Linked DNA regions of Homo sapiens. The protein of the gene in region 1 purifies or fractionates together with the protein of each later gene. This does not show direct contact. Each region holds a gene or a part of one and is shown in the gene's direction. Other genes may lie near its edges.

What was found. Proteins that work in one complex are often made in the same cells at the same time.
Region 2: the proteins of RPS6KA6 (region 1) and WNK1 purify together in Homo sapiens (affinity purification with mass spectrometry; one large-scale study listed by BioGRID and IntAct). This does not show direct contact.
Region 3: the proteins of RPS6KA6 (region 1) and NFYA fractionate together in Homo sapiens (co-fractionation; one large-scale study listed by BioGRID). This does not show direct contact.
Region 4: the proteins of RPS6KA6 (region 1) and DDX18 purify together in Homo sapiens (affinity purification with mass spectrometry; one large-scale study listed by BioGRID and IntAct). This does not show direct contact.

Annotation. Positions count from the first base shown.
Region 1 is NC_000023.11:84,059,200-84,062,699, reverse strand, and holds part of RPS6KA6 (ribosomal protein S6 kinase alpha-6), read left to right. Parts: 3' UTR 1-3,500. UniProt on the Homo sapiens protein: Constitutively active serine/threonine-protein kinase that exhibits growth-factor-independent kinase activity and that may participate in p53/TP53-dependent cell growth arrest signaling and play an inhibitory role during embryogenesis.
Region 2 is NC_000012.12:885,079-888,578, forward strand, and holds part of WNK1 (serine/threonine-protein kinase WNK1), read left to right. Parts: coding exon 1-1,006; intron 1,007-2,142; coding exon 2,143-2,226; intron 2,227-3,500. UniProt on the Homo sapiens protein: Serine/threonine-protein kinase component of the WNK1-SPAK/OSR1 kinase cascade, which acts as a key regulator of blood pressure and regulatory volume increase by promoting ion influx.
Region 3 is NC_000006.12:41,099,939-41,102,903, forward strand, and holds the end of NFYA (nuclear transcription factor Y subunit alpha), read left to right. Parts: 3' UTR 1-2,465; downstream 2,466-2,965. UniProt on the Homo sapiens protein: Component of the sequence-specific heterotrimeric transcription factor (NF-Y) which specifically recognizes a 5'-CCAAT-3' box motif found in the promoters of its target genes.
Region 4 is NC_000002.12:117,828,191-117,831,690, forward strand, and holds part of DDX18 (ATP-dependent RNA helicase DDX18), read left to right. Parts: intron 1-758; coding exon 759-815; intron 816-1,098; coding exon 1,099-1,276; intron 1,277-2,391; coding exon 2,392-2,534; 3' UTR 2,535-3,500. UniProt on the Homo sapiens protein: ATP-dependent RNA helicase that plays a role in the regulation of R-loop homeostasis in both endogenous R-loop-prone regions and at sites of DNA damage.

The DNA of each region.
Region 1 (3,500 bases):
TAATGTAAATAATCTATACCCCATGCACAAATATCTGTTTCCTGGGTGTGATATATTAAAGTATGTATTCTTATTTTGAGGTATCTTTTGGAAATAATTGAAAGAGATTAAATAACAATTTATGCCACATGAAAAATAATTACTTAGAAGTAGTTAGGTATCATGTCTTATGGCTTTTTATGTTCCATTTTGGCTTTTTTTCTCATTTGCTTTATTACTATATGTACTTGCATGTAACAGTTTGTAAGCATATATTCTGACTTATTTTCCTTCTGTCATTATCTAGTGCTGTTATGCCTTCCTATCAGAATCGATAAGTCAAACTCAGAGGTGTGATTTTGGTGTTGAAGTTTTCAGGACAGAGATACTATTTCCATGGATGCATTTTAAGTAATAAAATTAGGGGAAGTGAAATCAGAAAATGAAAAATGATTACAAAATAACTTTCAGGTTTTCTATAATCAATGGCTTTAAAAAGTAGACAGTCTTAATTAATTTTAAATTAGCTTGCTCAGAAAGGTCATGCCATACAGTCCTATCATAAAAGGAACACTATAAGAATTAAGCAATGAACAGCATGATTTCTGATCACCCAGTGAGGACTGACAGTGTATAAAAGATACAGGTATGCTACTGGATGTACCCGATAATTGTTTGAGAGTTTTCTAGTGAAAAACTCAAATATGCTAGCTTAACCACAGTAGTAGGGGGCAACCTTATTATATGGGAGAGCTTCAAAACATACTGTCATTTTGTAGAAGGAGCCCAGGTAAGGATGCCTAATCCTGTCCAGTTTGGCTAGAACTCCATAGCCAAAAATGCAGATTTGGATTGAACATTTTTTTGATGGGACTTCTATCAATGCTTAACTAGTAAAAACACATCTTTTCTATAAGACTTTAGAATACTGTGGTTTCTAATGGGTTCTTGAATAATGATTTTGCATTGTGTTTTTCTAGTTAATGGTTTTTGGTAGTATTTAATGATAGCACAGTTTGGGGTTTTATTGTTCTTGAAGGGGGAGGATATTGAATTTGTTTTTCTTAGAGAAAACATCAGGTTTGCTCAAATAGACTAACAACCTGTTGTCCTTAAGCACATACTACCATGAATAAACTCAGGAAACAATTTTCAAGAAAATTCGAATGCAGTGCTGGTGATGGGGATTTTTGTGGGAAAAAACAATGGTTTCAAGTCCTTTCACAAAGATCAAACTTCAGCCTATTTTGTTAGACTCAGCAATGTCTAAAACAGTGTTTTTTGTAATTTATTGTCATTGGTAATTCAATATAATAAAACAATTTTGATAGCACCTCTGTTTGGCTCAAAGGGATTCCATATGTTTAGGCAACCCACAACCTTAAGAACAGATGCTTGGTATTTATAATGTCTGCCCATTGGAACAACATGTTAAAATAGTACTGCCCAGAGAAACTTCCATACAGATTGACTAGTATTTTCTAGATAGAGGTCTTTCATATATGAAGAAGGAAAACAACCATTTATCTTGGCCCTAAGGCCCACAAGAAAACTTAGGCTTTAAAGTGGGCAAAGCATATTTGTGGTATTCTGTACATTCTCTTTCTCCTGGCTTTCCAGCCCCTTCATGCTATCTATCTTATTTGAGCACCTCACAGCAATACTCCATCAACGAAATTTACCCTATCCCCAGAAGGATTCTGTGTGATCCTTACTCCTTGTTCCTTCCTCTTCCTCTTCCCCAAATCAGGATATCCATTCTATCAGAACAGACATTTCCAGCTAAAAAGGTGAAAGGAAAGCTATCTTATTAAATTAATTTACATTTTTCTGTCAGTGGCTAATAGTTAATTGGCATTTTTTAAGGAAGTTGTGCATTAATCAAGTTTTTAGTTGCTGGATCTTCAGGCAATCTAACAAGGTGATAATTTTAAATTCAGTTCCTATCACGGAAAATATTTTGGGGGAAAGGAACAGTGTGTCCCAGGGTCAGAGTATCTAATAAACTGTTTCTTTTTTTGCACAATTTCCTTCCTACTTCCTTTCTACTTCTCAATCTACCTTTTCTCTTAAAAACTTTTAAACTTTTTAATCACAATGAACTTCTATGACAAAATGATGTGGAGGTAGACAGAGATTGGCGATTATTTCTGTATATGTTGTTTTTAAACCCATAGTTTTGTATTCTTGTTTCTCACAGTACATGACCTATATAGCATAAGAAGTTTTATTCCCCCCACCCCCCATCCCATTCCTGTTATAAAGAAAAAAAAAAGCACAGAGAGATTGAATCCAAACTACTCATGGAGTCCAAATTTTTCCAGATCCCTTTTCCAGATTTTAGGACCTAGAAATCCTTTAAGTCACAATGTTATTTCAAAAAAAAAAAAAAAAAAATGCAAGCCATATTAAGTATATATTGGCCAACTGCAATTAAACTTCTTTAAAACATTTTTGTTTTACATTTCAAAGCTTATTCAGGCATTTTTGGCATGTACCTCAAGATCAATGATTGTTGAAATTAGCAGAATAAATCAATAGTGGGCTATTTGCCTTTTTATGTGGGAATATAGTGGCATTGATAGTGATTATTCACAACATACATTATACTCATGGATGCACTGTTCCTGGTTTTAGTCTTACAGTGTAGTGAATTCCATCATATACTTTCAATAAAATGTTATGCTTGATCACCTAAAATTCAGTTTGGTTGCTAATACATAAGAGAAAAGGGAACTATACTTGAATATATTAAATTATAGACATAAGTTTCTTTGAAATATTTAGAAAAACAAAAGTTTTAGAATATGGAAATCCAAGCTTACATTATATTGGCAAATTATGTATGTTTCAATTATTCACTAAATAAATTTTAGCTAAATGCTTATAAATAAATATATATATGTAATTGCCAAGTTAGGGTTTGCTTTGTATTCACATTTCTAAACGCTGGACAATAGAGCTTCTGTGGATGACTGTTTTGCTGTAATTCCAACTGTCTAGTTATGGGAACTAATAATTTATTCTTCAAAAGGTATTAAGCATTTAATTTTACGTGGACAATTATAGAGAATGTACTAACTGCATTCGTTTATTAAAAAATTGTCAAAATGTGACTGATTAGGTTACTTTTATCTTTCCTATGAACTAATATTGCTCAGGTCACATTTTCTTTCTCTTTCCAAATTCATTCTCTCTGAAATTGCTGCTTATAACAAATATGTAGTGTTTTGTTTTTTAGTATGATAAAATTATTTTTAACAGCAGGAAAGCAGTCTATCAAGAAACAGCCGGCCGGGCACAGTGGCTCATGCCTGTAATCCCAGCACTTTGGGAGGCCGAGGCGGTGGATCACCTGAGGTCAGGAATTCGAGACCAGCCTGACCAACATGGAGAAACCCGTCTCTACTAAAAATACAAAGTTAGCCAGGTGTGGTGGCGCATGCCTGTAATCCCAGCTACTCAGGAGGCTGAGACAGGAGAATCACTTGAACCTGGGAGGCAGAGGTTGCGGTGAGCCG
Region 2 (3,500 bases), on another chromosome or scaffold:
TACTACATCCCCGTCACTTCAAGTCCCCACATCCACATCTGAGATCGTTGTTTCTAGTACAGCACTGTATCCTTCAGTAACAGTTTCAGCAACTTCAGCCTCTGCAGGGGGCAGTACTGCTACCCCAGGTCCTAAGCCTCCAGCTGTAGTATCTCAGCAGGCAGCAGGCAGCACTACTGTGGGAGCCACATTAACATCAGTTTCTACCACCACTTCATTCCCAAGCACAGCTTCACAGCTGTGCATTCAGCTTAGCAGCAGTACTTCTACTCCTACTTTAGCTGAAACCGTGGTAGTTAGCGCACACTCACTAGATAAGACATCTCATAGCAGTACAACTGGATTGGCTTTCTCCCTCTCTGCACCATCTTCCTCTTCCTCTCCTGGAGCAGGAGTGTCTAGTTATATTTCTCAGCCTGGTGGGCTGCATCCTTTGGTCATTCCATCAGTGATAGCTTCTACTCCTATTCTTCCCCAAGCAGCAGGACCTACTTCTACACCTTTATTACCCCAAGTACCTAGTATCCCACCCTTGGTACAGCCTGTTGCCAATGTGCCTGCTGTACAGCAGACACTAATTCATAGTCAGCCTCAACCAGCTTTGCTTCCCAACCAGCCCCATACTCATTGTCCTGAAGTAGATTCTGATACACAACCCAAAGCTCCTGGAATTGATGACATAAAGACTCTAGAAGAAAAGCTGCGGTCTCTGTTCAGTGAACACAGCTCATCTGGAGCTCAGCATGCCTCTGTCTCACTGGAGACCTCACTAGTCATAGAGAGCACTGTCACACCAGGCATCCCAACTACTGCTGTTGCACCAAGCAAACTCCTGACTTCTACCACAAGTACTTGCTTACCACCAACCAATTTACCACTAGGAACAGTTGCTTTGCCAGTTACACCAGTGGTCACACCTGGGCAAGTTTCTACCCCAGTCAGCACTACTACATCAGGAGTGAAACCTGGAACTGCTCCCTCCAAGCCACCTCTAACTAAGGCTCCGGTAAAATTATTGTTATAAAATAATTAGATAAATATGATCAGTTTTTTTTCTCCCTAATGAGTACATTTTTCACTTCAGCCTTGTAAGTTAGAAACATATTTATAAAGGTACCTGGCTTATAGTATTTATTAAATTGACAGCAGTTTGAGGGTATATCTACAATGAACATGAGATTTTTTTTTCAAGTGTGGCAGGATTTTAGGGTTAATTATGCTGCACAGTTTTCCAAGATGGTATAATTATCGGGTAAAATACAGGTATTTCTTCTGAATTGGTACAAACTGAAGAAGTCTGTATCCCAAAAGGGAGCTAAATGCATCTGTCAGCAAAATGTACGTAAATAATAGCAGTTCATAGTCTTTGTTTCAGTGAGAATGAAGCAAATTTTTGGTTTTGTTGTAGATTCCACAGTTGTACAGTTTGGGGGTTATAAAAAATTGGAAGTTAGTAAGGAAATTGATACAGAGGAGAAATAAATAATCTAATCCTAGGACTGAAGTAACTAAAATTTATTATCTAATTATGCTGTGGTGGATTTCCTCTTGTTCTGCCACCTTCTCCAAATAACAAGGCTGTGTTACGTCTACTGTATTGTATGCTTCAGCCTCTTTCTGCATTGCCATTGATGTGAGGTTCTTTTTATAGTAGGATAATGCAGAATCTTCACTCAGATAAAATAGAAATTCTTGATAATAGTATTAGATTTCTGATGCCTTTTGTTATCAGACCTGCCCATTGGTTATTTCTTAACCAGTTACTGTTTTCTTTTCTCAGAAAATCTTGTTTTACATGGCGAAAGTCTGATACATACTGTACCAAATAAGTAGCTCAAGAATATCTGGACACTGCCACTTATGTACATATAGCCTTTGTTCTGTTCTCCCTAGGGGACAACTTTTTACTGTATTTTACTATTCATTTTATAGGTATATCGTAGTAACCCCTATAATAACAACATTAGTTGTCACACCGTTTTTTTAAGACAGATACCAGAGAGTAACCTCAGTGATAAACATGTCTTAACTATATATATTTTATTCTTATGTTTGTGCATTCAAATTAGTTGATTTGCTCTTCAGTACGCAGTCTTTATATTTAGCGTCTCACGGACTTGATTTTCCCTTTGTTGTCTGTAGGTGCTGCCAGTGGGTACTGAACTTCCAGCAGGTACTCTACCCAGCGAGCAGCTGCCACCTTTTCCAGGACCTTCTCTAACCCAGGTGCCTCAAGACTTGACAAATTTCTTCCTGTGCCCTACTTTCTTTGACAAAGCTTGCTGAAGTTCTCCACTACGTGGTCTTGGCTTTTGCCTATTTGTCTTTGACTTAGTAACACCTTTCTTTTAAAATGTTATAACCAATGACCCAGTTCCTACTTAAGTAAGAAGCTTCATAGCTCTTTTGTTTGTAATGTTGCTTCCGGTTATCCAAAAACACTTGATACTAATTTTTTTTTTATATCTTATGAAGGAAGAAAACAGCAAAGCAAACATTTTGTCAGACCCATATAGCTCCCTTTATCACTCACACTTCTGTAGAATAGCGAAATTGCGTATATAATCAAAATTAACTTTGAGAGTGCCCTAGAAAGGAGAAGCACAATATGGCAACTGAGAAACTTTTTCCGCGAGTCCAGAGCAACCAGTCTCTTCTTGAATGTTGATCATTTCTTTCACTAGCCACCTAATGAAGGAATTAGCTTACTTATAGGTAGGTATAGGGGTGATGTTTCATGAAAACTATGTGTGCTGTCTCTTTTAAAATAAAAGCCACCGAGCTCAGTGAGATGCTAACATTATGAGATCACTCATGGAGGAACTGAGACCAGCCTCATGAACTTGAGATTCCCATCTCACACAGTTCTGCTCACTTGAGTGCAGTGGTGGACAGAATTACCTGTAATATTTATTATTTCTCTTTCCCACCGCAGTCCACCGCCAACACATTTGTTGAATTTCCATAAGAAAAGTACTAATTGTGAATCTGTTGTGACCAGGAAAAATCTTCTGACATGAGACAAGCCAGTAAACTTTTAAACTAAATTAGGAATTTATTTTTGAATCATATATAAGAAATAAGAAAAACATGGTAAATTGCTTACTTGAGAAGCTGAGTTGGAATTTATCCCTATTTCTTTGGTCCCAATGTACAGGGGAACACTATTTGAGGAACTTGCCACAATGAAGTAAAAACCCCAACAGAGAAAGCACTCCATCAGCCACCACATTTGGGGGAAAGTGCATTGTGAAAGTCCGTAAATCAGGAGTTAGAAAATTAGTTTTAAACTTATTTTCTCATTTAAAAACATGGATTCAGATTTCTAAGGGAGTATAAAGTGTGACAAAAAATAGCAAGTGAGACATGTGGAGGGGTAAGGGTAAATAGCTAGTGCCTAGATAGAGGGAAAGGCCTAAGCAAAGACTGTGCAAGAATAGATTGATAGAAGCCAAGACAGATGTAGGATTAGACTGTGGAAGGGTAGAAGGAAGCTGTGT
Region 3 (2,965 bases), on another chromosome or scaffold:
GTTATTTTTTAAAATAAATTTATAAAAATAACCGAAAAGTAATGTGACTTTTGAGGAATCTGCAACTCCTGGGTTCTAGTTTGTGTTTCCAGTGTTGAAATTTTGATCTCCCCCGACAAGACTTGTCTGCATGGACGGTGTCTCTGTAAACAGTATCAAACTTGTAATGTCTGAGCCTCTTAGCTTTATCTCCCCTTAATTTCTTCCCTTTTGGCCCTTCCACCCTGTTGAGGAGATTTTTTCTGTCACCTGCAGGCTGATCATACATTTGATGCTACTACTGAAAGTGTTTATCAAAATGTGATGAAGTAATTCCATGAGGAAAATTAGCCGTTATCACAAAAACAGCCTTAAGTATTGTAGAATTTCAGGTAGTGAAGATGTACTATTTACGTTTTGTTAGATTTTGTTTTGGCAGAAGACCAAAACAAAAGTACTTTTCTGATTGTTAAAAATCCACAGCATGCTCACCTTGTTACTGTTTTACCTTACGGTCGCTGGGAATCTAAGCAACAAAGACTAGAAGCCTCCGATATGCCATTATCAACACACAAGAGACAAACAGCCCGAGGAAGCACTCAATGATGAGAGCAGTAGACCTGCCCTGGCAGATGAGAGAGGAGAAACTCTCCACAATGAAGGAAAAGCACTGACAGTATTTGATAGCTTTAGTCAAACTGTGCTTGAGTTTGGCTTAGATTTATGCCAGTGGAACCTGTCCTTACCAAATTCAGAGATGACCCAAGATTCTACTCTGTGGTATGAGGGAAAGACCTCTCGATATTTATCTCACACCAACGGCTTTATCGTAGGAGCGTCTTCGCCTCCCCCGTTTCCAGTAGAAAAGACAGCTTTGCTCCTTTGAAAGCGCAGACCGCCGCACCTCCAGCCCCTTCTCCCCGGGGAAGTAGGCCCCGCTAAGAATGTGGGAAGGTGGTGGGGCGGCGACTGAAGTCGCTTCCGATTGGCGTTGTCCCAAGGAAGCCTGCGCGGATTGATCGGCGGCAGGCCTCCAATAGAGCCTGCTAGGCGGATTGGCTGCTACGCGGCTGGGCCCTGTTTCCGGTACCTAGGCGGGCAGCCATGGTGACCGGCGAGCGGCATGCGACGCCGCCTCTGTGGCCTGTGGAGGCCCGCTTGGCGGCGCTGCTTCCCGACCTACTGGTCTTTCGGAAGCCTCGGGGATGGGAACCCGAGCTCGCCACGGCCCAGGGCGTCCTCCTAGGCGTCCATGTGACGGGTGAGGGCGACGGCCGGCACTTGCACTTAAGTCTCCTGGCCTGCGGGAGAGGCGGCCGTTGGGTCTAAGCCCCTGGAGGCCTCGACGGTTACAGGCCTAGCCTCCCGCGAGCTAAGGCACAGTTTAACTTCGTGCTGCGGCTTCCTTAGGAAACTTTGAGTATCTTCGTTTTAGCGTGGGAGGACATCTTTTGGGATGAACCGGCTCAGTCCTTGAGCTCACCCCAAAGATGATGAAATTGAAACTCAGAGGAAAGGATTTTTACAGGACCACGCCCCGGGCTTTGAACCCGTTTTTCCCAACCCCGAGCATTTTCTATTAAGCGTTCTGTTTCAATTATTTTATTCGTTCAGTTAATTCGTTCTTGGCGTCATAAGTATATGCCCGCCGTTGTTCTGGCCGTAGCTATCTAGCAGCCACTCCGCGAGTCGTTCATTTAACAAATACTTACTCTGTGTCAGGGATATGAAGATGGGTAATACCAGGTGCCTGTCCTCACTGTGTGAGTGGTTCTCTAGCCAGACATGAGGAGGGATCCTATTGTTTCCCATAGCTAGGCAGCCTAAGAGAGTAGGGGAAAGAGCTGGCTCCAGATGAAAAGGGCACCATCTCCAGCTCTTGGAAGCAGAGAGGGTGGTCCTTTGGATTCCCAGTGGCAGCAGCAACCAACCTGGCCCTTAGTAGTTTCTAAGTTACACCATGTTAATGGATAAAGGAATTACTCAGCTTGAAGGGATCTGTTTCCTTTACACTGGCCTGATGTGTGGGGAGAAAGGGGCCAAAAAGTTTAGGATTTGGAGTTAACATCGTAATTTCTGCTTTGTTGGTCAGGGTTTACAGCATTAATGGACAGGTTCACCCTGACCTACAAGTCGGAACGTGACATGGACAAACTGGCCCATATCTTCAGTTATTACATTAGTGACATCGTGGAGCGTGAGTGATCATTGTAGGGTAACAAGGTGTGGTGCTGGGCTCCTGGGGGTTTATAAAAGAAGGGGGCCAGAAGTACTTTAAAACAGGTACCAAAGGGTCATTCCTTTAGCATCATTCATCTTTGGTTTCTTCAAGTTGCCACTGAAAAGCTAGACCTTTGCCTATTATCTGCTAATCTACCCAGTCTCACATTCTATTGACTCATTGTTCAAAGGGGGGGCAGGAGGAGCTAATTTCCTTTGCACATTTGTATTTTATTTCAAAATAAAGTATTCTCTTCTAACAATAACGTATCTCAAGTGTGTATTCAGACAAAATTTATAAAACATCTTTTTATTATTATATTTTGATCCTGTGAGGAAGGAATAGGTGTTTTCTTATTTTCTGCCATGTATTAAGCTTTTAGATATTTGCCAGATATCCAGTATCTGGAAAAAACTCATTTATGTAGTACCCATGTTTTGAGTACCTACCCTGTGACATGGACTGTAATAGGTGCAGGCAGGGCAAGAACCCACTCTTGAACTTTTTAGTTAGGCCTACCCAACAGAAATTACTCTGACCTTATACCTTTTAGTACTTACGTAACATTCTCATCCTTTACTGACAGTGCCCTGTATGCTTCCGTCCATCATTCTGAGATTCACCAGAATAATTACTTTGAGGCATCTCCGTTAAGAATTTGATTATTTGACTTACCTCTTATCCTTAAGGAACACATGGAAGGTCGTTTGCTTTTTCTTATAGGTTTGGATGAAGGGGAAGATAAACATTCTATATCGTGTATGT
Region 4 (3,500 bases), on another chromosome or scaffold:
ATTTGTTTAAGTTCTTAGTAGATTCTGGATATTAGTCCTAGCCAAAATTGACAAATGGGATCTAATTAAAGAGCTTCTGCACAGCAAAAGAAACTACCATCAGAGTGAACAGGCAACCTACAGAATGGGAGAAAATTTTTGCAATCTACCTATCTGACAAAGGGCTAATATCCAGAATCTACAGGTTGACATTTCATTACTTATCTTTCTCCCCCTCAAGACGGCAAGCTCTCTGAGGGCAGAGTCCATGAGTTAGGTACCTATTTTCTCTCTAGCACCTGGCACAGGCCTGTTGCTTTTCTAGTTATCTAATGAGTGATAACTGATGGCAGATCCATCCTGTAGGAGTTTGTGGTCATCATGGCCTCCAGTGTCACAAGCCTCAATACAGGACTGTGGGGGTATTAGGGCCCCTCTTCTGACATGGAGAAAAGGGGCTGATGGCCCTTCTGACTAGAAGCTTCAAGCTGATTCATGGTTGCAAATAGTCAGGATTATAGAGATTCTTACAGAAAAGTGCTTTACTGACTGTGTCCCTATCCAGTTCCTTGCCTTTCAGAAAGAAAGAAGTGCAGATTGCCTAACTCAGCAGAGCAAAGATGTAACTTTCCCATCAACATTGGGAGACTAGAAAAAGCAGATTTTCCTTTCTGTCCTGAGGGAATTTCATAGGCCGGTTCATCCTTCCCTGTCTTCAGTACCCAGTATCGGAATGCTGATCATCCTGGTTTACTAATCTTAATACTTTTGATTTCTAGGTTCCATTAAGTGAATTTGACTTTTCCTGGTCTAAAATTTCTGACATTCAGTCTCAGGTATGTGCTTTTTAAACGTTTGTGAGTAAACAGGAACCTTGTCCCAGCACTCTGTTTGTAGTGATTCACTGGGCAATCACTGTCCTTTGAAGTCTACCCTGTCCTAAAGTGAGGATCAGGCTGTGTAGTGTATAAGGTTTCTTGCTATTCTAGTTATCACCACTCTGTGCCCTCTTTAAATGTTTTCCATGGAGTGGCTTTGCTCTAGGATATTTAAAATCTGGTGTTTTGGAGGTTTTTGTTTGTTTTTGTTTATTAAAACCAGTGTTTCTTTCTATTTCAGCTTGAGAAATTGATTGAAAAGAATTACTTTCTTCATAAGTCAGCCCAGGAAGCATATAAGTCATACATACGAGCCTATGATTCCCATTCTCTGAAACAGATCTTTAATGTTAATAACCTAAATTTGCCTCAGGTTGCTCTGTCATTTGGTTTCAAGGTGCCTCCCTTCGTTGATCTGAGTATCCTTTTCTTTAATGAAGTTATCCTGTGACTAAGGAACAAAAGCTTGACAGAGGGGCATTTGGGGCTTTGCAGTGGATTGGTATGTGTTCTGGCTCAGACTGGAGGCTCCAGTGTTCACCCTGGTCGATGTCTGCTTTTCTGTGCTAGCACAGGACATAGAGGTTGGATGGGGTAAGCAGGGCTTAATCATTAGGATGGGGTTACAGGGACAAGGCAGCTTATGCCTTGAGCCTTCAAAAGACAAAGAAATTTGACTGTCAAGGAGAGACAGAGACAGTTGTGTGTTCCAGGCAGAAACACAGGTTAAAAAAATCAAAACTTCAGTGTTTGCTGAGGCTGCACTGTGCAGGGTACTTAGGTGAATGGGGTGTTTTGAAGCTAAAGAGAGGATGGGACCTTTCAAGGAGTTTTAATCATCTTAGAACCCCTGAAGGATTTTATGCAAGAAAGTGGCAAGTTCAGCAAAAGAAAATAAAACTTAGGTGTTGCTTAAGATAAAAGGCAGGAGTACTTCCAGTTGCTTCAGTTGTGATTTATAATTTGTGCCTTTCAGAAGAAGAAACTGAGCAGCTGAAATGAGGCCTGTGCTTCAGTGCCATAGGGGTAACTTCTGAGGGAACTAGAGGACCAAATTTTGGGTCACCATCCCCATTGTCAGCATTGAGTAAATGTCAGCTGAAATGAATGTATGTCGAGTCCTGTGGAAGGAAGAGCAGCTCCTTCACTTAGGCATTCCTAAATCAATTCCGAAGAGAAATGATAGTCATTTGTTTTGACACAGGAGGTGTTTTTTTAATGTGCTCCTACCAACTTCCTGATTAAACTCATAAATCCTTATTCACTGTCATGAATTTCATCGTGTGGAAGAAATAATTAATATGACTATTACACACCGAAGTTTAAAATCATACCTGCTAATTTAAGTCCACAGTCACGTGGCCACTCCTAATTTTCTGGAAATTTATTGCATAGGCTTATGTTCCCACATTTTCATTGTTGAGAATGGGGTTGTGGAGGAACAGTAGTGTTCATGCCGGTTTTTTTCTCTGTGTAGATGTTAGATTGGAGTTCATTATCTTTTTTGCTTGATTTCCTTAATGTTTGCCTCCAGACGTCAACAGTAATGAAGGCAAGCAGAAAAAGCGAGGAGGTGGTGGTGGATTTGGCTACCAGAAAACCAAGAAAGTTGAGAAATCCAAAATCTTTAAACACATTAGCAAGAAATCATCTGACAGCAGGCAGTTCTCTCACTGAACACATGCCTTCCTTTCATCTTGAATAACTTTGTCCTAAAATGAATTTTTTTTCCCCTTGATTTAACAGGATTTTTGTAGACTTTAGAATTTGGACTTACCTAACAAGAGTATAAATTGACTTGGGTTGCAAGCACTGAGCACTGTTACTTCTATCACGTCTCTCTTTTATTTCTGGGATATAAAACAGGCTTTAAGTTTCTTGGTTGCCCAAGGGCAGAGCAAGGAATATCTGGTGTTTCTTGTGATGATAATATTTTAATTTTAAATATCCCTCCCTCATACAAGTGTATGTTACCATTTTAATATAATTCTTTTTGTACCTTTCCTTCTTGTTTTGCGAAGATTTTTGTGGCATGGATTGCTGTGCTCACTGCTGTAAAAGGTGACCTAGTGTACTGGGCAGCTGGTGGCGGTGCAGAAAAGAGTCTCAGGTTATTTTTTGTTTTTAGTTATTTCTTGGACCTTGACAGTATCTAATGACTCCTCCTGAAAATGCTGCAGTATAAAAGAGCAAAGAGCTTTGGGAAATACCTAAGAAGCACCTTAAGATTAGGGTGGCATTGCTTTTATAGATTCTTGATTTTAAAGCAACAGGCCTTTCTCAGGTGTTGCATTTTTTGGAGCAAAAACTATGGGTTGTAATTTGAATAAAGTGTCACTAAGCAGTTATAACGTTTGATGGCTGGGGGGTAGGAAGAGGATGGAATTGAGATGTTTGAGCCTCATTTACATCAATAGAGGTGTAATGTACTGCATTTCTTCATTTGGTAACATAACAAAGACTTTCATACAAAGAACGATGATGCTCCTCATTAAGATTTGTTTAATTCAAGGTGGTTTGGATTTGGTAAGCCTTTGCACTCTGTAGAGTACTTAGAAGACAAGGGCAACTTACTTGGAGTTAGAGCCAAGCTGTCAGACGGTGCCCAGCACACATTAATGTTAGCTTCTTTCTGAGAAAAAA